Regions from separate parts of the Homo sapiens genome. Here regions 1 and 3 are each linked to region 2. Evidence: fine-mapped expression QTL. A gene starts in region 2. Each other region holds a variant in brackets. All regions are shown on one strand. Distances are from middle to middle.

The links. PIP is the estimated chance that this variant, and not a neighbour inherited with it, causes the effect. A credible set is the group of variants that fine-mapping cannot tell apart.
Region 1: its variant is the best candidate, but not a certain one, in a credible set for the expression of TNNT3 in CD4 T cells (Kasela 2017, PIP 0.64).
Region 3: its variant is the best candidate, but not a certain one, in a credible set for the expression of TNNT3 in ileum (GTEx, PIP 0.54).

Annotation. Positions count from the first base shown.
Region 1 is chr11:1,875,997-1,886,071 of GRCh38, forward strand. LSP1 (lymphocyte specific protein 1) reads left to right here. Exons shown (of 11, transcript NM_002339.3): 2 at 4,091-4,228; 3 at 5,436-5,600; 4 at 7,423-7,564; 5 at 7,936-8,028; 6 at 8,284-8,327; 7 at 8,504-8,585. MIR7847 (microRNA 7847) reads left to right here and starts at 4,049; the gene lies at 4,049-4,151. RefSeq lists enhancers at 1-447, 448-1,344, 6,024-6,233. The variant A/C (reference allele first, on the strand shown) is at 4,241.
Region 2 is chr11:1,914,451-1,924,525 of GRCh38, forward strand. It overlaps TNNT3 (troponin T3, fast skeletal type), which reads left to right and starts at 5,253. Exons shown (of 16, transcript NM_006757.4): 1 at 5,253-5,312; 2 at 8,407-8,441; 3 at 8,598-8,611; 4 at 9,105-9,122. The coding sequence starts at 8,425. It also overlaps a transcript of PRR33 not described here. RefSeq lists a silencer at 1,971-2,020 and an enhancer at 2,571-2,620.
Region 3 is chr11:1,863,931-1,871,792 of GRCh38, forward strand. All of the region lies in intron 1 of LSP1 (lymphocyte specific protein 1), which reads left to right. Among named protein-coding and RNA genes, the nearest start is that of MIR4298, 8.3 kb to the left of the region's middle. RefSeq lists enhancers at 6,671-7,209, 7,210-7,747. The variant G/A (reference allele first, on the strand shown) is at 5,830.

The DNA of each region.
Region 1 (10,075 bases), 38 kb before region 2:
CTGCTGATGGGGGCTCATGTGAGCAGTGCCCCAGCTGTGGGTGTGGGTGCTGCCAGCTGCCACCGCCTTTGCCCTGGCTTCCCAGATAGGCCCCGACACACACTCCGAAGCTGTATCATGAACGCTGTGGTGGGCGGCTGGCGGGGAGCGGGGTTGCTGTCCCACTACCCTCTGGAAGCCTCAGCCACGGAGGGCCCCTGTGGGCACCTTTTCCCGGCACACGGTGCTGTGTCTCTCCACTCTTGGGCTCTGCAGTGACTTGAGGGGTCAAGTCTAGGACCCCAGGGGAGGCTGGGCTCATGAGGGGACCAGAGACCTCAGTGCTGTGCAGGGAGCCCCGAACCACCCTGGTGGAAGGCCCAGCCCAGCTCCCCAGGCCTCCTGCCAGCTCCCTGTGGTGTCCAAGGGACCTGTGGTCAGGCCTGGAGGAGAAGCTCCCCCTCCCCTCGACATCCTCCCCGCAGCCCTTGCTCTTCACCAGAGCCTCCTCACTCCCCAGGACCCCAGAGAGGACGGACCCTCTCCAGCCGCCCTCTGGGCTCAGGACAGCCGGGTGGGGCAGCCACAGGAGCTGCCTGCAGGGGGCAGAGTCGGGACGGGGACCGAGCCGGACACCCATTCTGCAAGTGTCTGCAGGGGGAGGACGGAGGTGGGTAGCTGGGAGTGCTGGGCCGAGGATGGGCATTGTCAGGCCCTCAGCGGGGACTGGGAGGTAGAAGTGGGGGTGGGGGTTTGTGGAGGAAGGAGAAGAAGGGCCAGCGTCCCGAGTCGGGGGGTGCTTGGCAGTGGATGAGGCCGGCAGGAACAGACCTGAGCTTGGGGAGCTCCACTCCGAACGAGGCATCCGTCAGAGTTCTGTGCATACTGGTGTCCCTGGCTGGGGGCCAGGCCCCGAAGTGGAGCCTGGGACTGTGAGGGTGCGGGGGTGTGCTGGGGTGGGAGGTGGATGGAGCCCCCCCACCGCCTGGCCCCTTGGGCTGAACCTTGGGCTTCGGAGCCAGAACAGACACAGGAAATCGCCTAATTGCATTTGTGCAGGAACACCAAATCCCTCGCAGCTGCACGGGGCTGAGCCAGGGCCACGGGCGGGGTCGGCCATCCCAGAGTCCTGACAGCTCCGTGGTGCATGCCAAGGGGCCTGGGCCGCTGGCCGGGGGGCGCCTTTCCCAGGCCAGAGGCCCCCACCCCACCCCAGGAGAGCTGCCCCCCTTTCAGTTCCCAGAACGGAGCCCAGCTGTGGAATAGTGAGGGGGTGAGGTCATGGGGAGGGGGCCCGCATGACTCATATCCTGGGGTAGGGGAAAGGGAGGAGACGTAGAAGGGGCCCAGAGGCCTCCACGTCCTCAGGCTGCTGGGTCAGAGGCCAGGGGCTGGCCGGGCTTCTCCCCAGCACTGGGTTTTAGGGGAGACACCAGGAGATGCTTACTCTGCATCCCCTACTCTGTCCCCCAGGCCCCTAGCCAGGGAGAGCTCAGTCGGAGTGATCCTCCAGGGGCCCAGCTCTGCAGGGACGATGTTCCCAGAGTACACACCTGGGCCTCGTGCCAGGGCCGGCACCGCCGTTGTCGGGGCAATGGCAAGGCAAACAGTCAACGTTTGCCTCACTAAAGTGAGGCTGCGGCACCCTGAAGGGATCCCTGGAGGGGGACGTGGTCCCCTTGTTCCCAAGCCTGTCTGCACACGCACGTGGATGTCAAAGGTTCCCGTGTGTGAGCACGTGCATACTTGTATGTGCATGGGGTGCGGGCATGTATGCCTGTGTGGCTGGAGCGTGGGCTCGTGGAGAACGTGTGTGAGTTGGGTGTGCACCTGCGTGTGCCCCAGGCCTAGGGAGTCCTGCGCCCGGCCGCACTCCATGTGTTGGGCATGAGCTGTGAGCAGAGTGAGGGCCTTTGTGGGGCTGTTGGGGCCCGGACTGCTTGCCCATAGGGGTGGACCTGAGGAAACGTGTGCACACGAGCTTCTGGGGTCTCTGCGCCAATGTGTACTTCCAAGCCCCGCCTCCCCTATGGCTTGGTGGAGGGGGTCTGTGGAGCTGGAGTGAGGGCCCTGGACCCATCGGAAGCCCAGGTCCAAGGAGGAGCATGGGCTCCCTCTCATGCCCCAGGCCCAGGGACACACACCCCAGCTAAGCCCTTGCTCACATGGAGGGGCTGGGACATGGGAACACGGGGAGCAATATGGCCAGGCTTCCCCTCCATGGAACCCCTCCACCTCCTCAACACTCTGCCCCAGCCTGCGCCGCCCTCTGTGTGGAGGGGCTGGGGCGTGAGTGAGCACGAGGGCCCCTGCGCCCCAGGCTCTGCCTCCTCAGGTGGAACAAGGCCCAGCAGCCCCCAGCCATGCGGAGGCCGGCAGAAGCGGGAAGCTGGGCCTCATCTGCCCGGATGATGGGAGCCAGGTGTGGGGAATTAAGTGGCTTCCTCGGGGGCCGGGAGTTGAAGGCACTTCTGAGGAGCAGGACAGGCAGGCGGATTCGGGGGCGCGGGGGGCGGGGTGCACAGGCGGCTGGGTTTGCGTGGCTGGAGTCCCCTGTGGCTTCGGTGGGGGGAGTGGGCCTTGAACTCGGGCCTGTGGAAGGGCCTGGCTTTTGTCTGAGAGGCTTAGGGGAGACCTAGGAGAGATTAGATCACGCGCTGGCAGGGCTGTCTGGCCAGGGGACTGGGGCCCAGTGGGGATCAGGCTGCAGGGTCAGGCAGCGGCCACTGGCCGGGAAGAACTGAGACCCCAGTGGGGAGACCCCAGCCCTGCTCCCTGTTCTGGCCTGGGCTCCCTCCCTGGGTCTGGGATAATAAGCCCTGTAGGAGTGTAGAGACCCTGGACCCCCTCTCAGGCTCTAGGAGGGCGATGGGAGGCAGGGCCATGACAGCTGAGGCTGCGGTGTCTGCAGGACCTGGACCATCTGAGAGCTGCTGGGCCGGGGCTCTGATGCCCAGGTCCAGGCCAGCCTGTGCCTACCTCTGTCCCTGAGGGGGGCGCGTGGGACCCCAAGAAGCCATGGTTTCAGGCTCTGAGGGCAGAAGCACTCCCTTACCTCAGTTTCCCCATTTTTGAAATGGCTCAATCGGCTGGGTGCGGTGGCTCATCCCTGTAATCCCACCACCTTGGGAGGCTGAGGCGGGCGGATCACCTGAGGTCGGGAGTTCAGGACCAGCCTGACCAACATGGAGAAACCCTGTCTCTACTAAAAAATACAAAATTAGCCGGGTATGGTGGTGCATGCCTGTAATCCCAGCTACTCAGGAGGCTGAGGCAGGAGAATCGCTTGAACCCAGGAGGCGGAGGTTGTGGTGAGCCCAGATCACACCATTGCACTCCAGCCTGGGCAACAAGAGTGAAACTCCGTCTCAAACAAACAAACAAAAGAAACAGCTCAGAGAGACTCCGCAGAGGGCTCTGAAATAAGGATGGGGTGGGGTTGGGTGAGCCGACCCTGTAAGGTGCCCCCAGCTATGGGGTTAGGCCCAGGCAGGACCCATGAGTCTGCGGAGCTTCTGTGAGCGGGGCTGGTGGTGGGACAGGAGGTGTCCTGCCTGGACGTGCTCAGGCCCTCCTTTCCTCAGCCTTCGACCTCCCCTTTCTCCAACACGCCCTGCCTTTGGGGTGCAGGAGGGAGCACCCGCAGGTGGGGTGGAGGTGCCGCCTGGCGGTGGGCTGCGGCCAGTCTCCCTGGACTCCAGTATCTTCTTCCTGGGCCCTCCAGGGTCACCTGGGTCTAGGTCCTGGTTCTACTTAGGGAGGGAGGCAGGCTGGGAGAGGGGGACAGAGGGCCTTTTGTCCTGTCCTTGAGTTTCTTCAGGCTTGAATGGGCCTTGGAGTCCCACCTTCATCCCCACAGGGCACAGGGGTGCCCAGATCCTCACAGGGCCCCAGGACCCTCGCCTGGGCCAGAGGGCACCTCATGACCACGTGGGCAGCCTCTATTTAAAGATGGACAAGGTGAGGCCTGAGGGCCGGCCTGGGACTGACCTCGTGGACAGGGCTGCCTGCACCGTGTGGCCCCAGCAAGGCCTGTGTAGATGGGAGGAATGGGTGCAAAACAGCACCTGTGTCGGCTGTGGCGTGACTGTCCCTCTGTGTCCCCCACTAGGCCCACTGCTCAGTGGAGCGTGGAGGACGAGGAGGAGGCCGTCCACGAGCAATGCCAGCATGAGAGAGACAGGCAGCTTCAGGCCCAGGACGAGGAGGGAGGCGGCCATGTCCCCGAGCGGCCGAAGCAGGAGATGCTGTGAGCAGCCCC[A/C]TAACGCGTGCCTGGGCTCTAGCCCCTATCCGTGTACCCTGGGGCCTGGGCAGAGGGGGAGGTCAAGGGCCTGGGCTTGGGGGTTCCAGTGCAGGATGAGAGCGAGGAAGGGCCCCCAGGAGCAGGCGTGGGAGTGGGTGAGTGCTCCTGGGGCGAGGGTGGCCACAGCCCTAGAGGAGGGTCTGCCAATACCTGGCTGCCTCCTGGGCGCTGACCCAGGCTCTGTGTCCGTGCCCTGGCCCTTGCTCGGACCGCCTCTGACCCCAGCCACGCAGCCTGGCCGAGCCCCCCACCAGACTCCCCCGCCAGTGACTCACAGAGCCACGTCCAACTTGGCGGCCAGGCTGGCTTGCTTCCTCCTTGGGCCCAGGAGGCCTCCGCGGCTGGGCTGGGCTGTTTTTCCAATAATGCTTCCCTTCCTTCTGGCCTCTTTTGTTCCATTTTCTCCAAGTCAGCAGCCTTGGGCAGAGTGGGGTTCAGCGGTCACCATAGTCAGGCCCTTGGCCACCCCCACCAAGGGCCCCAGCTATCCAGGGGCTCCCCCTGCCACATGGGAGGCCTGAGAAGTCGGGGCTTAGGAGGACCTCATGTAGGGTCCTCATGTGGGGACCAGGGCAGCCCTTGGGGAGCCCCAGGATGATGGGGGAGGCACAGCCCTGCCCTAGGGAGCCCCAGACTGATGGGGGAAGCACAGCCCTGCTGTTAGGGAGCCACAGGCTGACGGGGGAGGCCCAGCCCTGCCCTAGCGAGTCCCAGAGTGATGGGGGAGGCACAGCCCTGCTCTTAGGGAGCCACAGGCTGACAGGGGAGGCACAGCCCTGTCCTCAGGGAGCCCTACACTGATCGAAGAGGCACAGCCTTACCCTCAGGGAGCCCCAAACTGATGAGGGAGGCATAGCCCTGCCCTCAGGTAGCCCCAGGCTGATGGAGGAGGCATAGCCCTGCTGAGCCTCAAGGAGTCCTGGACTGATGGAGGAAGCACAGTTCTCAGGCTGCCCCAGAACTGACGGGGGAGGCATAGCCCTGCCCTCAGGTATTCTGACCACAGGAGACACAGCCCAGAGCCAGCTCTGTGGCAGACAGGGTCTCCCACACTTGGAGTCCAGGGCCTGAGCGGGCGCCGTGAGGTGAGTGTGGGCCCTGGGCAGAGGAGGCAGCAGCCGCCCAGGCCTAAGCTCCCCCCTGCTACCCTCAGCCTCAGCCTGAAGCCCTCGGAGGCCCCTGAACTGGATGAGGACGAGGGCTTTGGCGACTGGTCCCAGAGGCCAGAGCAGCGGCAGCAGCACGAGGGGGCGCAGGGCGCCTTGGACAGCGGAGAGCCCCCCCAGTGCAGGAGTCCTGAGGGGGAGCAAGAGGACAGGTGAGTGAGGGCCTCGAGGGCGGGCGCTGGGCAGAGCAGGGCTCCCTCTGGACCTCGAGGGCGGGCGCTGGGCAGAGCAGGGCTCCCTCTGGACCTCGAGGGCGGGCGCTGGGCAGAGCAGGGCACCGCGGAGCTCCCTTCAGGCCCTCAACCTGCGCCTGAGCAGCCACCCCATCCTCCCCTTTCCAAGCAGAGCCTGAAATGCCCCCATGGCCAGGAAAGGGGGAGACAGGAGGGGAGGGAGGAAGAGGGCGAGACAGCATGGTGGCCGGCGAGGGGCCGCGAGGAAACCTCATTCTGGGGCTCCCCAGGGCCCCTGGGCCCCATCCAGGCAGCTGCGAGGCCAGGCCGGGTGCTGCCACATCAGCACACAGCTGCGGCCGCTTCCGTAATGGAGGCTGAGAGCCCGCCGCCGCCCCTTCCTCCCTCGGGGCTGGCTGATCTCCATTCCCACGGAGGGGAGCAGGTATTTCCAGATGTGCATGCCGGAGAGTCGGCCGGGAGGACGCACTTTCCAGATGTGGGGATGTGTGTGCCTGTCTCAACCCCAACAGGCCCAACAGGGGCTGCTCCCGAGCCCCACTTCACTACCCCTGCTCGGGGTCCTTGCCGCTCTCAGTCATCTGTGGCCATGATGGGGCTGACCCCACCCGCCCTGCAGGGCCTGGGCCATCTGGGACCCCAGCCCTGCTCAGGACCCCCTTGCCTTGAGTGGGACCAGAGCCCATGGCTGGGCTGACAGTTCTCCCTGGTCAGGGTCCTTCCTGGCCCCTCTGAGGCCCTAAACCAGCCTGGAGCTCTAGGGACCAGTGTTGCTGAGCGACGCTCCCTTGTCCTCCTACAACCAGGCTCCCACTCCCCAAGAACCACTGGTCCTGGCCTGGCGCAGTGCCCACCGCCCCCCTCCCTGGGCCTCAGTCTCCCCCCTACGTGCTTGGGAGTCAGCGGCTCTGCTTTTCTGAGATGGGGCAGCTCCCTTCTCCCTTGGCCTCAGGCCTAGGCGGGCGAGGCTGCTCCCACCAGCAGGGGGCGCTTTGACTCTTCCGTGGAGCCCAGCTCTGCGGCCGCCACCCCACCCCCTGCACCTGCCTGGCTGCACAGACCTGCTCCTGAATGGCCCCTCTGTGTGGCTGCTGCTGGCTCAGACCCCTGCCCACCTTGGGCGGGTGGGTCTGGGTCTTGGCTGGCACGCACACCCAGGGGCCTGAAATCATGGAAAATTCGAGAATTTCCCATCTTCTCCTCCAGGTTCAGTCCTGCTCAAATGCAGAGCCGCTCAAAGCTGCCAGCTGGCTGGCCTCCCCTCCCCCGCAGCCGGCAGCCCCTTGGCCCTGCTCCTCAGTGACCTGGCCCCTACCCCTGCCTAGCCCTCCAAATGACCCAGCCTCCAGTCCCCCAAACACCCAAGGGCCCCCACAGGGAGCAGAGCAGGAGTGGTGGCCCCAGCAGCCCGGCCTCGCGGGGACCCCGTCAGACCAACCGGGTGTGCAAGCAGCTGCCAAGCTGAGGCCCAGCCACAAAGCTGGGGATTGAACCCAGCCTCAGTGCCTGGGGGACCCTCAGTCTGTAGAGCCCTGTCTGGCAGGGACTGGGCAGTTCCCCAGGGGCCTCAGGCCCTGACACAGGGGCCCAAGCAGACTGCGCTGGCTCTGAGGCCACTGGACCTTCTTTCCCAATGGGCTTGGGTCTCAGATCCCTTGGCACTCAAGTAGCCTGACTACCTTCATTTTACAGATGGGGAAACTGAGGCTTGGAAAAAGGAAGGGGTCAACCAAGCAATCCAATGGCCCTAGAACGGCTTTGCCTCCCTTTCCACCCACAGGCCCGGCCTGCATGCCTACGAAAAGGAGGACAGTGATGAAGTCCACCTGGAGGAGTTGAGTCTGAGCAAGGAGGGGCCAGGCCCAGAGGACACTGTCCAGGACAACCTGGGGGCCGCAGGGGCTGAGGAGGAACAGGAGGAGGTGATGGCTCCACCTCAGAGGGTCTGGGTGTACCCCCACCCCAGGGATGAGTCTGCCTTGGCTGTCTGCACCACTCTGTGGGCCCTGTGGGTCTAGCCCAGAGTGGGTCAGCACCCCACACCCCTAGACCTTGCAGCCCCTTCTGGGCCCACATTCTCAGAGAGGGCAAGGCTCAGTGATCCTCTTGCAAGATCCGGAGACATCTCTCCAGACTCCTCAGTCCCTCCCCACCAGCTCCAGAACTGGAGCACGTCAGGGCCACAGAGAACCTGGGGCTCAGGAAGGAACAGCATTTGTTCCCACAGGTGCTGGGCAGGGCAGGAGGGGCACAAGCAGGGGGTCACTTGGGATGTCTGTTTTTTTTTTTCTAGCACCAGAAATGTCAGCAGCCCAGGACACCCAGCCCCTTGGTCTTGGAGGGGACCATCGAACAGAGCTCGCCTCCCCTGAGCCCTACCACCAAAGTAAGTTAAGCTGCAAAGCCTGCCATCTTCTCCCCTCTCCCGTACTCATACCCAAAAGGCCAATCCCACATGCCAGCCACAGGAAGACCAGGCCCAGGCCTGGCTTTTGTCTGCTATCCCCCCATTGCCCGGTGCTCAGCGAACCCCCATGATATAAGGGTTGGGGGTTGGATTAGTGGTTGGAGTAGCTGGGGAGATGGAGGGTGGGCTTTACCTCGGCTGCTGCAGGCCTGTGTCTCTCTCCACCCTCTGCAGCTCATCGACAGGACCGAGTCCCTAAACCGCTCCATAGAGAAGAGGTCTGTCTGTCTGTCTGTCTGCTTTCTGGGCTCAGATCTTAGGTTTAACCAAGTGGGGGTTGAAGGGAGTCACAAGGTAGAGATCTGGAGACCGAGGGGGGCTCTGGGAGAGGCTTGGGCAGGTTGGGAGAAGCCTTGTGGGAGACATGGGGCCTGACACATCTTCTACCCTCCAGTAACAGTGTGAAGAAATCCCAGCCAGACTTGCCCATCTCCAAGATTGATCAGTGGCTGGAACAATACACCCAGGCCATCGAGGTATGACCTGGCTCCCCTCTGCTGTCAGGTCCCTCCTGCATCCTGGCACCATTCCTTCATCCAACCAACGCCCTTCCATCCAATCAGTGCCGCCTTATTCAACCAACACCCTATCCAACCAATGCTTCTCCATCCAGTCAGTGCCCCTCTACCCAATCAATGCCCCTCCATCTAATCAATGTCACTCCATGTAATCAATGCCCCCCCTTTCAATCAATGCTACTCCATCCAACCAATAATCTCCCATCCTATCAATGCTTCTGCATCCAATTAATGTTCCTTTATACAACCAATACTCCTGCAACCAATACTCCTCCAATTATTCAGTGTTCCTCCATTCAATCAATGCCCCCCTCGGAACAGTACTCCACCACCCAATCAATGCTCTTTCATCCTATCAATGCTCCTCTATCCAGCCAATATTCCTCCAGTCAATCAATCCCCCTTTATCCAACCAGTACTCCTTAATCCAATCAGTGCCCCTCCATCCAATCAAGATTCATCCCTCCATCCAATACTACTCCATCCAATCAGTGCCTCTGCATCCAATGTCCCTCCATCCAATCAATGTCCCTCCCATCCAATCAATTCTCCTCCATCCATCAATGCTTCTCCATCTGACCAATACCCTCCATCCAACCAATACTCATCTATCCAATGAATGGCTCACCATGTAACCAATGCCAGTCCCACATGCCAGCCCCTCCATTCAATCGGTACCTCTCCATCCAATCATCCAATACTCTTCCATCCAGTCAATGTCCCTGCATCCAACCAATAGTCCTTCATCCACCAACTCCCTTCAATCCAACCAATACACCTTCATCCAATCAATACCCCTATTCATTCAGTGCTCCTCCATTCAATCAATTCCCCTCCAGCCAACCAAAACAACTTCATCCAGTCAATGCCCCTCCATCCAATAATGCCTTGCACCCAATCAATGGCCTTCTATCCCATCAATTTCCCTCCATCCAACCAAAATAGTTTCACCCAATCAATGCCTCTGCTTCCAATCAATGCCCTTCTATTCAACCAATACTTCTTTATCTAATCAGGACATCTCCATCTAACCAGTATCCTTCCATCCAACCAACACTCTACTAAATCAGTGCCCCTCCATCCACCCAGTGCCCCTCCATCCACCCAGTACTCACTTATCCAACAAGCACTCCTCTATCTTACCAGTATTCCTCCATCCAATCAGTGCTCTTCTATGCAATTAATGCCCCTCCATCCATACTTTACTCCTTCACCCAATCAGCGCCCTTCTAGTCAAGCAATACTTCTGATTTCAATTAATCCCCCTTCAACCAACCAATACTCCTCCATCCAACCAGTACTCCTCCATGCAATCAATGTTCCTCTATCCAACCAACATCCTTCTATCCAACCAATATTCCTCCATCCAATTAATGCCTCTCCATCCAACCAGTACTCCTCCGTCCTATCAATGCTCCTGTATCCTATCAATATTCCTCCATCCAACC
Region 2 (10,075 bases):
TTGGGTCACACACCTAAGATGTTTTTCTTTGTGTGTGTGTGTGTGTGTTGTGTAGTCACACACCAGGGATGATGTTGCTCTGTGTATGTGCCTATGTGTGTTGTAGGGTATATACACCTGGGGATGTTGCTCTGTGTGTGTGTGTGTGTGTGTGTGTGTTCTGGGGTCACACACCTGGGGATGATGCTCTGTGTGTGTTGTGGGGTGTACAAACCTGGGGAGGATGTTGCTCTGTGTGTGTTCTGGGGTCACACACCTGGGGATGATGTTGCTCTGTGTGTGTGTTGTGGGGTCACACACCTGGGATGTTTCTGTGTCTTTGTGTGTGTGGGTTGTGGGGTGTACACACCTGGGGAGATGTTGCTCTGTGTGTGTTGTGGGTGTACAAACCTGGAGATGTTTCTGTGTGTGTGTGTGTGTGTGTGTGTGTTGTGAGGTCACACACCTGGGATGATGTTGCTCTGTGTGTGTCTGTGTGTGTGTTGTGAGGTCACACACCTGGGGATGATGTTTGTGTATGTGTGTGTTGGGTGTACAAACCTGGGGATGATATTTCTCTGTGTGTGTGTTGTGGGGACACACGGATGATGTTTGTGAGTGTGTGTGTGTATGTGTTATGGGGTCACACACCTGGGATGTTTCTCTGTGTCTGTGTGTTTTGTGGGGTCACACACCTGGGATGATGTTTCTGTGTGTGTGTGTGTGTGTGTGTGTGTTCTGGGGCCACACAACTGGGATGATGTTTCTCTGTGTGTGTGTGTGTCTTGTGGGGTGTACACACTTAGGGATGATATTGCTATGTGTGTGTGTTCTGGGATCACATCCCTGGGGATGATGTTATTCTCTGTGTGTGTGTTGTGGGATAGGACATCTGAGATGATGTTTCTGTATGTGTGTGTCTGTGTGTTGTGGGGTCACACACGTGGGATGATGTTTCTGTGTGTGTGTGTCTGTGTGTGTATGTTGTGCGGTCACGCACCTGGGATGATGTTTCTGCGTGTGTGTGTATGTGTTGTGGGGTCACACACCTCAGATGATGTTTCTTTGTGTGTGTTGTGGGGTCACACACCTGGGATGTTTCTGTGTGTGTGTGTGTTGTGGGGGGTGATGTTTCTGTGTGTGCATGTGTTGGGGGGGATATTATTTGTATGTGTGTGTGTGCGGGGTGATGTTTCTGTGTGTGTGTGTTGTGGGGGGTGATGTTATGTGTGTGTGTTTTGGGGGGGTGATGTTTCTGTGTGTGTGTGTGTTGTGGGGAGGTGTGTGTGTTGGGGTGATGAGTGGATGTGTGGATGGATGGATGGAGGGAGGGATGGATGGATGAAGGGAGGGTGGATGAAGGGAGGGAGGGAGGGATGGATGGATGCATGAATGGGTAGATGGATAGATGAAGAGATGGATGGATGGATGGATAGACAGGTAGATGGATGGGTAGATAGATGGATAGGTGGGTGGATGAATGGATGGATAGACTAATGATGGATGGATGGATGGATGGCGGGAGGGATAGATGAAATGGAGGGATGAGTGGATGGGTAGGTGATTGTATGGGTGGTTGAAAGGATGGACAGACGGAGGGATGGATGATGGAAGAGAAGGAGGGAGGAAGGAAGGAAAGGAAGTGGTGAAGGTGAGAGTGAATGCATGGGAATGAATAGATGGGTGGATGAATGGACAACTGTGTGAAATAGCAGACAGCCTGGGGACACCCTCCCTCCTGTCCCTCCTCTCCCAGGTCTTGCACTGGGCCCTGACACTCAGCCCTGCAGCCTTCAGCGTCTGGGAAGTCCCTTCGAGGAGCAGCACCCCAGACTCTGATGTTCTGGACTTCACTTTGCCATTCCCTTGGGTCCTCACAGCCACTATTTTCTGAAGGCTTCATGTCAAACCCTGCTTGCCTCATGAATACACACAGTTCAGAAAAGCAAAACCTCGACAGAGCCACCACCCACACAAGGGAGGTGACGTGCCCCCATCCTTTCTCAGATGCCCCAGCCACTGAGAGAGGATCCAGGCCACCCTCCCCAGCTGGGGAACCACCCAGTGACAGCACTCCCCTTGTTTCCCACCTGATCCGCTTGGGACGGTGACCAAGGGCAGCCGAGAGGCAGGCCCAAAGGCCACAGTTGGGCACTCAGCACTGGGGTGCAGAGTGGACAGCACCAGGGGCAGGGGGTAGTTGGGGTCAGCAGTGCTGAGGAGGCAGCCACTGCCCACCCCGCCCCCGACCAGCCCTGGCCCCTTGTCAGATCATCTGCACCCCTCGGCTCAGCCTCGAGAACAAGGACCCAGGGCCTGTCCCTCTGAGCTCTACCCAGCCACAGCCCTGCTGTGTTTCTGATGCAGCCTCCCGTCCACGGCCACAGCAACCCCATGCCCCTGCTCCTGGAAACCTGGAGGTCAGGCCATGCCCAATGCGGAGGTCAGGAGGCTCAAAAGGCCTGCAGCCTAAGAGGCCCCTGGCCAGGGATGGCAGATGAAGCCCCTAGCCTCTGTCCTGCCTGCCAGAGCAGCCACCAGACACCCTGTGACCCTTGCTACAAGCCCCTAGGCCAGCCACAGAGAAGACACCCATCATATCTGCAGAACGAGTCAATGAAACTGCAAAATCAGAAGCACTAGGCATGTGGGGAGGCAGCTACCTAGGGCTGGAGCAGCTCAGTTCCCAAGTGCTGTGTCAGCTGCTCCTGTCCTGGGCCTGGCAGTGATTGAGCCCACAGCTGGGCCGAGCGGCCTCAGGCTGGATCCAGCCTGGGGGCTCAGGTCAGCTCAGGGCATGAGGAGAGGCTCAGGACCCTCTTGGTCTCCACCACCCCCAACCATGCGCACTGGGTGCTGGGACCTAGATTGAGGGGCCCCGGCCACCATCTGGGGGCCACCCAGGCAGGGAGCTGCAGCCAAGACACTCAGGAGGCCATCCTCCCTCCCACAGCCTGCTCCCCACTCCCTGGGCTTGGCTCAGCATTTGCCAATTTCAGAACCCCCCCATCCCCCAACAACTGCCCTAGAGCCAAGGCCCCGTGGTCCGTCCTCAGACTCCTCCTGGGTGGAAATGCGTCCCCAACCCAGGCTGGGCCTCCCTTGTGCCCTGCCCCCACCCAGGTCTACAGTCCCCCAGGAGGCCCCTGCCCTGCCTCCTCTCCTTGGACCATCCCGGTCCGGCCAGATGGCAGCAGGGCATGGGTTACCTGGTGCAGGCCCTCGAGGCCGCTGGTGCCTGCTCTGTGCAGTCCCTGCTACGCCTCAGGCCCAGCGCCCGAGGGGGAGGTCGCCGATACCCAAAATAAAACCTGCCCTATCCCTCTGACCTCAGCTGGCTGGGCGGAGAGCGCCTGCCAAAGCTCCAGGAGCTGGGCGGGCAGCACCTTCCCCTGCTGGCCACACGGGGCCAGTGCAGGGTTATGGCACACCCACCTTCAGGTGCGCCCCTCAGGACCCCTGGCCTGGGTGAGGGCTTGGGTGGGCACAGGCTTCCTAGGCCTGCAGACTGAACCACGTGTAACCAGAATGGTGGGCTCAGGGCTCCGTTAGAGAAGCCGGCAGAGCGAGCCTGGAAAAGGAGGTTGGCCCCACCATGGGAGAGGATGGGGTGGGCCCGCTGACCCCCAGGGACCCGCTCACGTGCCTCTGAGGGAGCAGTTCTGCAGATGTCCCCAGTGGGCAGGAAGCTGGTCACAGATATCCAGGGGCCAGGGCTGTTTGTGGCCCCCAAAGCCTTGCCCATCGAGGACATGGACAGGGAGGGGAAGGCGTGGAATGCAGACGAAGCCACAGACCCAGAGCAGGAGGACGGCGACGTTCCCAGCAACCCCAGCTCCAAGAGCCTTCCCAGTGCCGGGCACTCAGCGGGAGGCAGGCAGGGGACCGGCCCTGTCCTTTGAAATGGCAGCCTGGGGCCAGCCCGCCTTGTCGTGTGACCCCAGGCACACCTTGCCTGTCCCTGGGCTCTGCGGCCTCGCTCTTCCATGGAGGGGTGGAATGAGGTGCCAACCACAGCCTTCCGGAAGGCCCCCGACCCGGCCCCAGGGCACTGTGAGCCCCTGCCGGGTTATCCTGTTGTCCCTGACTCTAAGCCTGGGGAGGACAGGGACCTCATCTGTGCCTCTCGGGACTCACCCCTGTCCTGGGCGCTGGCCAAGAAGGAACCAATCTGTGCCTGAACCGAAGAGTTCCGCAGACACCACCGCCCACGCTCAGCCTGTGGGGTCTGAGGGGAGTGAGGGGGTGGGTCAGGGTGCCAGACTGCTCTCCCCCACCTGGTGCCTCAGTTTCCCTGATCCAAGAGGCAGGGTTATCCAATCTGGTGGCCTCACTGGCCAGCATACAGGCCATCAGAGGCCAGGAAGGATGTCTGCTAGTCGGACGGTGCCACCTGGAGTCCTGAGGAAAGAAAACCAGTCTCCACACGCCACAATGAGCCTGTGGGAGATGCTGGCACAGATGGTAACGGCCACTGCGAGTGCCCAGGGTGGGGCCCCAGGGTTAGAAAGGGCCTAGAGGGAGGACCCAGACCCTTACCCAGCAAACTCCATGTGTAGCCCCCTGCAATGGCAGCAGCCCCGGGGGGAGGTATGGCAGACTCGGACTGCAGCCAGCCTGGCCATGTCCCTCGCCCGCTTATTGTGTAGGCCCCAACGGTGTCTAGCCAGGAAAGCAGAGCTGGCCTCTAAGAGGGTCTCAGATAGGGTGGGGGCCTGGCCTCAGTTCCATGGGGGGTCTCCGAGGCCTCAGGCTGCTTCCTCCCCGGGGGAGACAGCGAAGGGCCTGGGGCATTGGGCCGGGCGGCGGGAGGGGACCCCGGCTGTGCGGACCCTTTTCCTGGACAAATGTTTACTCCCACAGAACATCTCAGAGAGAAGGGGCGGGGGGGTGGGAAACCCGGCAGCCTGGCTCTGGGGACCCCCACACTAGTTTGGCCCAAAGAGAGCCTCGGCTTGGTGCCCCGGGGCCACCCAACACCTTCCTCCTCCCTCCTCAGCCCATCCAGAATGTACCCGCTGCTGGGAGTAAAAATAGCAGCTGACACCTCCTGGAGGCGGAGGGAGGACCTTGCCTCCTTCTCCAAGCACGTCCTCTGCATCCTGGCCTCCTTCAGCCTCCTCCTCTGGCCATTCCTATACTTGGTAAGGGGCCTGCACGGGCATAGCCCCCCCCAGCAAGACTCCGCACACACCCCGGCCACCCAGTCACTGGCCAATGGGCTCCTAGGAAGATCAAATGTCACTATAACACGAGGGTGTGAGCCGGGCGCCAGTGCCTGCAGCCGGTGCTGTCCACAGGGAGCTCCAGCCCTTCTCACACTCGACCCGCAGGTGGGTATAGGCAGGAGCGGCCACCCAGGACTGGGGCCGACGGGGCCTCCTGCGTGCGGGTGGACAGCCCCTCGTTCCAGGGACACTCTGGGGTCCTGGGGCGCTGAGGTCCCAGGTCCGTGTGGTGCCGAGCATCTCGAAGCATCATGGCTCGGAGCCCCCAGGTGGCTGCTCCAGCGTCCGGAGAGTCTGGGATGCGGACATGGTGGTGTGATGGTCTCAGCACCGGGAGGATGCAGAAGAAGGCAGAGTGTGGGAGGCCAGGAGGGGGCAAGTCGGGGCTCAGGGAAGCTCAGTGCTAGGGAGTGGCCTGAGGGCAGGAGGCAGAGAGGTGCGGGCTGTGAGCGGCAGGGAAGAGGCTGTGCAGGGGTGCTGCCAGGGCTTAGGTTGCCAGCTTGTGGTCGCCATGCAGACATTTGCCCAGGCCCGTCCTGGCCTTGCCATGCAGCTCTCGCACCTGGGCCTCCAACACCGCCATTTTGTAGAGATGAAAACGAGGACAGGAGGGCAGGGGCTCCTGTATGGCCAGCCCGAGTGTGTTGGGGTGGGGGCGTCTAAAGCCCACGCAGCCTTGGGGGCCAGCGTCTGGAGGTGCAGGACAGAAGTGGACAGGGGCTGGACTGGGGCAGGACGGGGCAAGAGTGAGGGGCTGGGCTTCATCGCGTCCCCCTGGCTGGAGGCTGGAGAAGCTGGCGCTCGTAAGAGCCCCCACCCACCCTCCCTGCCCTGGACACGGTCCCCCTGACTTGTGCCGTCTGATCAGGCCTTGGCTGCCCCTCCTGAAGTCCACGGAGGGACATGGGGCAAAGCAAAGGTTGGCTGGGTGGAGAACAGGTCTGGGGGCATGGTCAGGGCCACAGCAAGCAAGGGGCAGCGGCTTTTGCCTCCCCACCCTGCCCTGGCCCCGTCACCTCCCAAGGAGGGAAAGGTGATGCATACGTGCCCGAAGAAACTGACCGCATAGGTTATTTTCACGCAGCCCCTCCAAGGCAGGCACTAACTGGACACCTGCTTTGCGTCTCAGCTGTTGAAATGCCATCCCCTGCCCCCAGCACACCCCTGCCCCCAGCACACCCCTGCCACCAGCCCCTCCCCGCAACAGAGGCAATGACACAGGCCATACTGGGGGGAACAGAACAGCCTTGTGTTGCTTCCAGGCGCTCAGCAGAAAACCAGGTGCCTCAGTTTCCCCACTTGGAGAGTGGGCCTTTCCAGCGCACGTCGGGGGGCCTGGAGGTCACCCTGCCTGAGGGTGTTGGGGCACCCATGTGACTCTGGCCTGGGGGGACAGGAGGGAAATATGAGGAGCTGGGGAGGGCCTGGGTGCCCGAGGGTGAGGGGGCAGCTGTGGGCCAAGGAGGGCTGGGCTGTCACACCCGCCTCACCCACGTCTTGGGTTTCTGGGCAGAAACGTCTTGCCTATTTCTGGACACCTCAGCTGCCACTGGCTCCTTATAAATAACCCACCCCAGGCGAGGGCCACGCTGCCCCCATCTTGTGGCAGCCGACAGGTGTCTGCCCCGCCAGCGTCGGGCTGGGCACAGCAGGGCGGGGCCAGGCTCCGCTCCCTCCCTTCACTGACCCTCCTCCTCCTTACAGAGGATGGCCCTAGAGGAGTCTGTGGCGTTTGGGGCCTGAACCAGCTGGGAGGACAGCACGAGGGGCTGGTGGGCAGCCTGGGACTGGGTCACACCGGGGGCCTGGACAACACTGGCTCGTGGGGCTGAGGACTGAGGAGAGCCTGGCCCAGCCGTGGCAGTTACAAGAGGCTTAACCTGAGGGGCAGCAGAGTCTCAGGAAGAGATTCTGGGATAGGAAAAAGCTACCCCCGTTGCCTGGAAGACAGCTATCTGCTGGGTAATTTTGCATGGAGCTTAAGTTGCTCTGGGAAAATTAACATTCTTGACAGAGGGTTTGGAAAACGGTTCCCACCTCAGCAGTGCAACGTAGATGCATTTTTAGCTGATGAACGTGTGTTTTCCTTATACAACACTCCCAGGGGGGACCGTAGCTATTGTCTTCGAGTAATCTGTACTGTGTTGTAATGAACTTTGTTTTCTAAAACCCTGGCCAACATGCCGGTGCAGCTGCTCAGAGCCTCCCCAGGCCTGGCCGCCCAGTGTGCACGGTGGCCAGCTCACAGAGAGACGGTCCCCAGCATGCTGGCCTGGCGCCACCACCGCACATGGACAGGGCAGCCAGTCCTGGGCATGGAGCTTCCCCTAGACAGGGACAGATCCAGAGCATCCCCGGGACCAGGGAAAGCGGCCACAGGGAGGGAAATGGGGGGGCTGTTCTGTGGGCTCCTGCAGTCCAAGTATGCCTTGTACAGAGCCCGGCCCGGGGGGGTGCACGGGAAGCGGCCCAGACCCAACCCAACGTGCTCTGGGGCTCAGCCTCAATGTTTTCAGGGTACAGGGGTAACAAGAAGGAACAGCTTCCCTGCTCTGTGATCTTGGAGGAGGGGTCCTCAGAGGGGTGTGGTGGGACACACTCTGGGCACCCCATAGGAAAACAGGCACAGAAGGGAGCTTTGGGCTCAAATAGGGAAGAGGGGTTCTCATGGGGAATGGTAGGGTGAGCAGATTACTCATCTTGGGGAGCCAGTCTCGGTCATCCAGGGGCTCCCAGGGAGACCCCACCTACACCCACTGGGCAGAGAACACCCAGAGACAGGTTTCAGCTCCATCAGCGGGACCTTTCCAGTGTCTAGAGCGGGCTGGACGGCACACGGCCTGCATTCTGGATGACCCTCCTCAGGGGACGCCACGGAGAGGATGTCTGCCCTGGGTGGGGGTGGACGCCACGACCTTCCAACATCCCTTCCAGCTCCAAGATTCCAAGCTCCAGTCTGGAGCCAGGGCAGGAAGAGGGGACAGAGTCTGGGGCGCCAAGAGCTGGGAGGGGCCAGGAGCCCTGGAGAAAGGGGAGGCCCAAGGAGGTGGACTCACCCAAGGCCAGAGCTGGCCCCCAAACCCTGCCCGCGGTCCCCCACAGCGCTGCTCCAAGACCCCATCCCCCATCCTACACCCAGGCAGCTCGTAACTCTCTTTCCATCCTCTCTCTCTCTCTCTCTCTGAATCTCTCTCTGCAGAAACCACCCACCTTCACCATGTCTGACGAGGAAGTGTGAGTACCCAGCTGGTGGCTGCCCCCTGCCTGGCTCGGGACCCTGGCCCCTTGGCTTCTGTGGGGCTGGAGCATGCGCTATCTTGCACAAGTCCAAGCAAAGCCCAGCCTCACTACCTCTCTCTCTTTCTTTCTCTCTCTCTCCCTGCCCCACAGTGAACAGGTGGAGGGTAAGTGTAACAGCCATTTTCTTTCTACTTCCTGCTCTAGAAGGAAGGCTCACATGTGGGCAGGGGGCTGGACTGTGCATACCCTGTGTCCCCTTGACAGCCCTACATCAGCTGCATCCCATGGGTGGCTTCTGAGTGACCCCCGGAAAACAGCTGTCCAAGTGGGGGGCCTCGTCTTTTCCCCGAAGTGTGGCCACATGGTCCTGAGGGGCCTGCAGGTCAGGCTCTGGGTCCTGTCTCTCTGCTTCTCTCATGCCCACTGTGGGACGTGGGCATCCAGGACCCCCGAGCCCCCCAAAAGCCACCATCATCACCAGAGCCTCTGCCTTCCCCAGCGCCTCCTCAGGGCCCGAGGACCCCTGATTCCACGCTCTTGGGCAGGGGCAGTCGCTGGCCTGTCCAGGGCCGGGACACACTGGCCTCTCATCCTCCTCCTCCCTTCACGGGCTGCCCCTTCTAACGTGGTTCCCCTCTTTGTTCTGTCCCAATGCAGAGCAGTACGAAGAAGAAGGTAATTCTGGCAACCACCGGAAGCCCCCCCAGCCCCTCCTTGGAACTTAACCCCCCTCTCCCGTGTGGCGCTCACAGAACCCCCTCCCCAGGCTGCTCCAGGCCGCCTTGAGCTTGTCAATCAACCTTCCATCTTCCTCATCATTAGTCACTAACAATCACCATTCATCATTAATTAATGATAAATGAGGCCACCACTTAATTAATGATGGATGAGTCATTAAATCATCACTAACCCCTGTCTCTTTAATCGATTAATATGCATTCACGATCCTTCATTAATCCTTCATCCTCCGTGTGCCATGGTGTGTGGAGTTCACTGGGGCTGGTCATGAAGGCCTCAAAACACCGAGTGCCCTGCGTGCCCAGTGCTGCTGTCTCTCTGCCTCTCTCTCTATCTCTACCCTCCCGGCATCTCAGAGTCTCTCCATCTCTCTCCAGTTCCTTTCCGTGTCTCTCTTGGCAACTTTGTCTCTCTGTGTGCCTGTGTATCTCTCAGCTTCTCTCTGTCTCTGTATCTTTCAGCCTCTTGGTCTCTGTCTCTCCCTGCCTCTCTCTCTCAGTCTCTGTCTTTCTTGGCCTCTCTGTCCCCATTTCTCCACCTCCATCTCCATCTCTGTCTCTCTGTGTCTCCATCCCTCCATGCCACCCCCCAACCCTGTGCTGTAACCCTGGGTGGAGCCTGGAGCCCCCTCCCTGTGCTGGCCAGGTGTGGTCTGTGGGCGTCTCCATCGTGCCCGGGCAGGCGTGGGCGGGTGTGGGCGCACCTGGGAACCGTGTGGGGTGGCGGTTCTCAGGCCGACGGCGCTGCCCTGGAATCCCTGGCACCCACTCAACTGGGGAGCGCGTTCACGCAACCTTAGCAGGCAGGGCTGTCCTGTGAGGAGTCCTGAGTGCTATGTTTTGAAAATATTTTGAAAACACTTGGCTACCCTAACAACGTGAGCAAAACAT
Region 3 (7,862 bases), 52 kb before region 2:
CAGCCTCCCCATTTGGGGAACAGAGAGGGTTCTTGGGGTGCCAAGCCTTCTCTGGAGGTGACAACAAGAGCAGAGGCCGGGAATGAACAAAGGGAAAGTGGAGAACCAGGAGCGGGGGAGAGGGGAGGAGGGGAGAGGAAGGGAGGGGAGGGGAAGGGAGGGAGGAGGGAAGGAGGGAGGGAGACAGAGATAGGGACAGAGACACCAGAGGGAAAGGAGAGAGGAGAGAGGGGCTGAGTGCGAGACGGGGAAGGAGGGGACGGGACAAAGAGGAACCAGCGAAGGGTCCAGGCCTGCGATGATGGTGAGGGAGGTGGCAGGTTGACGAGGGGCTGGACAAGAACGGCCGACGAAGGAGAAGAACAGAGGAGGGCCCGGGCAGGGCCTGGCAGAGGGCATGAGGCACTCCGAGGTGGGAGGCGGCGATGGGCAGAATAGGCCCCTGTGCCTGGGGCAGGGGCACCACAGAGGGCTAGGGGAGACCGAGAAGCGGGCAGCGGCTACCAAGGTGGCCTGAGGGCAGAGGCGGAGGGAGGAAGGGAAAGAGGAAGGGAGGGAGGGAGGGAAGGAGGCAGCCACGCTGCCCATCAGCGCGCCACAGAGGTCTGGCTGAGCCCCACGCTGCTGGGCTGGGAGAGTTTTCGCTCTGACATTTTTACTCTTCTCGGAAGGAGGAGGAGGTGGAGGTGGAAGAGATGGAGGCGGGAGGAGAAGGGGGCTGGGGGAAACAAAAGAGAAGCAGCTGCTGAGAGTCCTGAAGTAGGAGAGGGGAAAGGGAGACCCACAGTCAGGGAGACCCACAGGGATGGGGACACAGGGACCAGGCTGCCTGCAGGGAGCCGGCCTGCAGACCCTCGTGCCAGGAGCCGAAGGGAGGGACCAGGCTGCCCACAGACCCCTGTGCCAGGTGCCAGAGGGAGGGACCAGGCTGCCCAAGGGAGCCGGCCCACAGACTCCTGTGCCAGGGGCCAGAGGGGCCAAGACAGGCAGGCAGAGGGTCACAGGGACAAGGAGAACACCAGACAGAGAGAAGGGACAGGGGAGGGGTGACAGCCAGCGAGAGACCGAGGGCCAGGGCAGAGCGCCAAGGAAGTGCAGGAGTGAGAGGGGCCAGGAGAGGCAGGAAAGCCAAGGAGAGCTGGGCACAGGGGGGCAGGGGTGCGGGAGGAGGGCAGCAGAGAGGAGGGCCAGCAGGACAGGAGCCTTTGAGATGCTGCTCTATCCCCGGGGCTGGGGTCAGGCCAGGTCGCCGCCTGAGCAGAGGCTGCAGCCTGGGCAGTCCCGGGCTTCTGAGGAGGAACTCTAGCAGACAGGGCCTGGATACCTCTTGAGGTAGGTCCCTCCTGCCCTGGCTGGGCATGGAGGGCAGGGCAGGGTGCCCATGCTGGGCTGCCACATGCACCGGGCCACTGGGCCTCCCCCCAGCTTCGGTAGGCTCTGCTGCCCCAAGCGTGGGCAGCGAGAGGGTGCCAGGCTGGTTGCGTGTACATGTGTGAGTGCGGAGGCTGCTTGAGGCCTCTCTTCCTCCTGGCTCCTGGCAGCTGCCCATGCATTCTCCTTCCCCATCCCACCTGCACTGCCGGCTGCGCTGTCGCCTGCTCACACCGTCCCACCCGCACCGCCGGCTGCACTGTCACCCGCTCACACCGTCCCACCTGCACCGCCGGCTGCACTGTCACCCATTCACACCATCCCACCTGCACCACCGACTGCACTGTCACCCGCTCACGCCGTCCCACCTGCACCGCCGGCTGCACTGTCACCTGCTCACACCTCTCCCCGAGCCCCAGGGATTCTGCTTGACTCTGAGCCCCCAAAATGAAGGGCCCATCCTCTGGGTGGCTTCTGGGGCCTCCCGTGGGGTCCTTCGGATCCTGGGCACCCTTCAGTCACCCTCACTTCACAGATCATGAAACTGAACTTTGGGCTGAGCTTACCGGCCCTGGCTGCAGCCACCAACCCTGAGTGGGAGGCTCCTCAGGGCCAGGGAAGGTGCCCGGGCCTTGTCCACCTGCAGGTGTTGGGCCAGTGTGGTGCCCTCTCCCAGCCTGTTTCTTCCTCTGTAAAGTAGTGGTGTGGCCCTTCATGGGGTCAGGTGGGAGAGCAGAGTTTGGAGGGCCCAAGGCTCCTCAAGACCCAGCCTGGGCAGTCTCAGAGATATCCCTCTGCACCGTCAGCCACTCTGAGCCGCCTGTAGTGCCCTTTCTCCTCCTCAACCCTTCCAGGCTTTTAAGCCAAACTGAAACACCACCTCCTGCTTGAAGGCTGCCTTGCTTCTTCCTAACCTGGAGGGCTGTCCTGCTCTGACTTCCTTTGATGGCATGGAGCATGCTGGCCGGACCTCGAGCTACTGGAAGGCAGGGCTGGCATCGGTCGGCTTGCCACTGCCCACCCAGGCCAGGCACTCAGTGCTGAGACTCTGAGAGGCCAGAGAGCCAGGGATGCCCATGGGGGTGAGCTAAGTGGGGTCTGAGGAGTTGAGGGCAGCCCGGCTCACCCCTCCTCCCCAGCTCCCACTTGTTGGGTCCGTGCAGATGCAGAGAGATGGCTCCGATCTGGTCCCCACCTGGCAGGGTCTCCGGCTGTCACCTGAGTTCAGGACCAGCACCAGGATCTGCAGTGGGCCCCTGGCTGGGCACACCTCATCCCAGCCTCCCCCTACCCCTGGCCCCCCATAAGCCTCCTCCTCCTGGGCTTCCAGGCTCTGCTGGTCAGACCTCCCTCCCTGCCCAACGGGAATGTGTTTTCCCAGGGGACGCTGCTGTCCACCAGGAGCTCTGTGGCCTGGGATTTGAGGAGTGCCTGGGGTCAATCCCCCAGGCTCACCAGTGCTACTTAACAAATGGGCCCAAGAGAAGGAAGTGCAGCCCCCGGAGGAGGGGCAGAGCCCCTGCCTGGCTGTGCGGTGGCTCACCCCCTTGTCACCAGGGGCTCGGCCATGAGCATCCGTCCAGCGGGCCCAGCACCAACTGCAGCCCCAGGTGAGCAAGCCGCACTCAGGAGGCACTGAAACCGTGTGGGCCCAGGCTCGGGGCCAGTCCCTGTGGACCTGGGGAGGAGACACTGAAGCCGCGTGGGCCCAGGCTCAGGGCCAGTCCCTGTGGACCTGGGGAGGAGGCACTGAAGCCGCGTGGGCTCAGGCTCGGGGCCAGTCCCTGTGGACCTGGGGAGGAGACAGTGAGGAGGGGACCTCACTTGCGGTGGTCAGCCAGTGGGTTGGTGGCATAAGGACCCGTCCCTTTGAACTCCCTTGGAACTTGTCCTGATGGGGGCTGGGCAGAGGGCAGCAAGAGTCCCTTGTCCAGCTAAGGGGAGCCACCAAGGTGAGCTACATGAAGCAAGGCTGACACGTGTGCACTAATACACACCCCCTCCAGGACACAGACCCAGAGGCCGCTGCACCCCACCCACCCACCACACCCACACACACACATGCACACACACACGACCACCCGGGACAGTACTGCGCTCACCACCACTGCCATGATCTCTTCTCTGCAGCCTCCAACAGCTCGGACTTCCCCAGTCCCAGCCCTGCAGGCCAGGCAGACTGCCCCCTACCCACTCCCTGTTGGATAAAGGAGTGAGCCAGGCTCAGAGAAGCTGTGGGTGAAGAGACTTCAAGGCCACTCAGCCGGGCATGATGAGCCCGGGTCCCTGGGTCCCTCCTCCACCCGCATCACCCCACCCCTTTCCCGGGGACCCCTTGGGTGTCCTGCCATGTCAGGTGCAGGGCTGGGAGAGGCATTGCAGGCAAAGTGCTGTGTCCTCAGTGATGAACCCTGAAGGGCCATGCTAGGTGCCCGCAGCTGCCAGGGAATAAATTCAATGCAGTTTACATCCATTAAAAATGGTGCTCTGGGCCAGTGGGAAAACGTGTCCCCCCTGCCCCGTCGCCCCCCACCCCTGCCCCAGCGATTCTCCTTGTCTACACCCAGTGCAAGCCCAGGGGCTCTGCATGTAGTCCCATAACACCATTTTCTCCAGGTCTGGCTGTACCCAGCCCCTGCCAGAATGCGGCTTCTGGCTGGCAGGGTCAGGCCCTGGGCTGACCTACCCCCAATGCCTCCCTGCCAAGTCTGCCCTTCCAGGCACCTGGGAGTCTGCCCTGTGCCTCCTGCCTGCCCCTGGGCAACTCGGGGCTCTCCCAGGGCCAGCTCGGGCAAGGCAAGTGTTAGGGATGGTCAGGGGACCTCAAGAGGACTTCAGCCCACTCAACTCCAGACGTCACCCGGACTCAGCCAGCGGCCTGGCCCTGCTACCTGTGGGGTCCTGGCTTTGTGAGAGGGCACCAGGCCGGCTGAGAGTGCCTTGTAGCCTGGCCCGGAGTGAAGAGGGGGGCTGGGGATCAGCCTGGCAGACGTTCTTATCAAGCATTGAGGTCCCCGGAGCCCCGTGCCCACCCTTAGCCATGGCTCTTTGGGCGGTGTGAGCCCCTCCATTCCCTCCATCTCGGGCACACATCTGCCCACACATATACAGATGTGGCAGCCACACCGTGCTTGGCTCTCCGCAGGGCTCTAAGGCCCCTCAGGCAGGGACCCACCCTGAGCAGCCTGGTCCAGGGACCTCTGGGGCTCCTGATGTGGCCAGTGGGGCAGGAATGGGCTGGCAGCCTGCTGGGCTGGCCCTGAGGGGGCTGGGGGAAGCCAGGCCTCCAACCACAGTGTCCAAAAGGGTGTGGCTGCCTTGGGCCCATCCAGGCCTGAGATCCTGAGGGTGGGGTAGCCCCCGCCCTGGCAGGGCTGGAAGTCGGTCTTCGGACAGAGCCCGTCCTGCCCAGAAGCCCAGGCGAGCCAGCAGCAGGGGTGCAGGGACCGAGTGGCCCAGCCCCCTGGGCAGGGTGTCAGGGCCAGAGCCCAGAGGACGGCGGTTCAGGCTTCAGTCCCAGCCGGCGAACCAGAGCTGGGCAGAGCGGCCAGCAAGCGGCAGCCAGGGTGCCCTGGGCACTCGACCCCCAGATGCCCCTGCTGGAACCGTAAAGGGGAGGCACCCTGAGGCCAGAGGGAGCATGGCCCCGGGGACTGAGCATCCGGCTCAGAGCGGCTTGGCAGAGGTCGGTGGACTGGGGTTAACCACAGAGGTCTCTGGAGGGCAGACAGGAGCCACTGCAAGTGGGAGCTTGTGGGAGAGAAGCCCTTGGGTGACCCCTGGATGGGGCGGGGACCATTAGGGAGAAGGGTGAGGGGCTTGGCCCCTGCCCCAGGCTCCAAGTGGGCTGAGACCCGGGAGGCTTGAGGGTCGGCTGCTACCCATGACGGGTTGGGGAGGTATTGGTGCGAGCTGAGGTGGTGCTTGCGGAGGTGAGATTGAGGGCCGGGCCTGGCCAGGGATGCTGGGAGGGGGGCAACCCTGTGCCTGGGGCTGTGAGGGTCTCTTGACGAGAACAAACCCTACCTGGGGAGAAGTGACAGAGAAAAGAAAGAAAGAAAGCGAAGGCACGAGAAAGAAATGAGAGAAAGGGAGGGAAAAATGCTGAGAGGGAGGGAGAGCAGGGGCTGCCTTGAAGGAGGAGGGAGGGGGAGCAGAAGCGGGTGCAGGGTGGTGGCAGGATGGGAAGGGCAGAGGGAGGGGCTGAGGTGCGAATGGAAGCTGTGTGAGGGTCCCGGGCACTGCCCCTTGCCGCCGACCCCAGGTGTGGGAGGAGGGGTCTCTCCCACGTGGGCCGCACCTAGCAGGTGCCGGGGCAGAAGGCTCAGAGCCGCTGTCTCACACAGCTTCTTGGTGCTCCAAAGACGGGCGGTAGGAGGAAGATCAAAGAAGCGAGAAATGGATGCTGGAGGAACGCAGTGAGGCCAGGCGAGGGCTGGCGAGCTTGCCAAGGAGAGG[G/A]CGGGCGAGGAAAATGGGGCGCCCCACAGAGGAGGGGGCGTGGGGGGGGCTGGTTTTCCCCGAGACTGAGAAATGAATTTCTGCACCCGGACTGGGACCCCCTGGGTCAGGACCCTCCACTCACATTCAGGAGCAGCACCTCTTCTGGCCTCTGTCCCTGCCTGGTCTTCCCCACACCCGGTTCTTGGGGGTTGAGGGGTTGGAGCCCCAGCCACGTCATCAGCTCCCTGGGACCCCTGCGTGAGACGTGAGAGGTGCACCTCCGAGCCTCCGTTTGTGCATCTGTAATGGGGATGATAGGACTGCGCCCCTGGCGACCATTGTGAGGACGGAGGCGCTGGCTGCACTGGTGCTCACTGTGCCTCTTTAAACGGGGATGTCTGGACCTCTGGTGCAGAGGACCAAGGCCGGTCCACTTGACCTCAGCCATGAGGACATCCCAAGGCCATGTGAGTCTCCCACGGCCCACTGAAGCTGGTCCTTCATACCCCATTTTGCAAACAGGAAAGCTGAGGCTCAGGGAGGCACCAAAGCTTACTCCCATCCTGGGGCTTGGCAGGGGGTGCCCGCAGCACCCGGGGACATACACCGGGGAGTCTCCTGGGAAAGAAGTGCCGGCCCAGGGGCAGACTCTTTTCTGCTCTGCCATGTCTTCCCTGCACCCCCAGGGATGATGAGTCTGGGAGGGGCTGGTCAGCCATGAAAGCTTCGGGGAGGGGCCGGTGGCCAGGCCGGGCACCCCAGAGCTCCACAGGCAGACATGGTGTGGGGGTGTCAGGAAGAGGGCCTGGCTGCTGGGTGCTACGGTAGGAAGATCCCGGTGCTGTGGGAGTGGAGCAGGTGGTTGAATGCCAGGCTGGCTTGGTCCTTCTCTCTGGGTGCCGGCTGTGGCTCCCGCCCAGGTGGGCACCACGTCTGAATAATGTATGAAGCCTCTGGTTGCGTGGAGGATGGGAGCGCTTCGGGCAGCATCTGTGGGCAGAGACTTCAGGGATGTGAGGTACATCTGGGCATGGCTAGCTGGGAAGGAAAGAGGATGGCAGAGCCTCGAGCCGTTGCCAGGGACTGGTTGCGTGTCCCAGAACGTGCCAAAAGCCTGCCTCGTGAGCACGGCAAGAGCTCTGCCAGGGCAGTCCCAGCTGGCCCAGGCGCCGCAGCGCTCCCGAGGGCCGTCGAGCAAAGGCGGGAGGCGCAGCCGGGCTGTCGGTGGACCTGTAGGTATCAGGGCTCCTTGGTCCCCTCCTGCGGGAAGCAGGCACCGAGTGGGGCTGCATGTAGACGCATGCGAGGGTGAGAGCTGCGGCGGAGGACGCTGATCGCGGAGTGCAGGCGAGGGCCCCAGAAAGGTCCCGCAGGTCGCCTCGCTCGTGGCACGGGCTCGGCAGCGTTGTGGTTAGTGACACGGAGGAAGACAGAAAGCCATATGCACAGCACGCAGAACAGGAGGAGGGGGGAAGAAAGAGCAGGCACGGGGCAGGCAGAGCCGCAGCCACGCCGCCGGGATGCAGCAGGCAGGGCCACCCACGAGCAGGGCGGGGCCCTAACCTCCGACCCAGGCTGGTCGCCGCAGATGGGGGCAGAGATGTGAAACAGCTGCAGAGCGGGACAAGGGTGCTGCCGGCACAGGGCTGACCACAGAGCACATCAAAAGAGGTAGGGCACCCAGCGCAAGGGAGGTGATGGGCTGGTCAGCAGGACATCAAGCCGGTTCTGGACCCTGCTCTGAGGACGGTCCCTGACCCAGCCTCTGAGGACCAATGGGAAGCCAGGGGTAGAGGGGTTGGGGGAAACCAGGCTCCATTTTCCAGTCTCAGCAGGGGGCCAAGGCTTGCGGCTCTGCGGAGGCCACACCATGAGGTTTCCAGGGTCATAGATGCCCTTTGGTCAGCGCTGTCTGCCGCTGCACGGGCACCCCTCCTGTTGGGTGTCTGGGTAGACTTGGGGGTCTGTCCGGCTGGCGTGGGCACCTTTGGGAGGGGGGTGTGTGTGGCGGGCAGGCCTGGGCTGTAGTCACCCCAGCCCGTGCTGGTAGA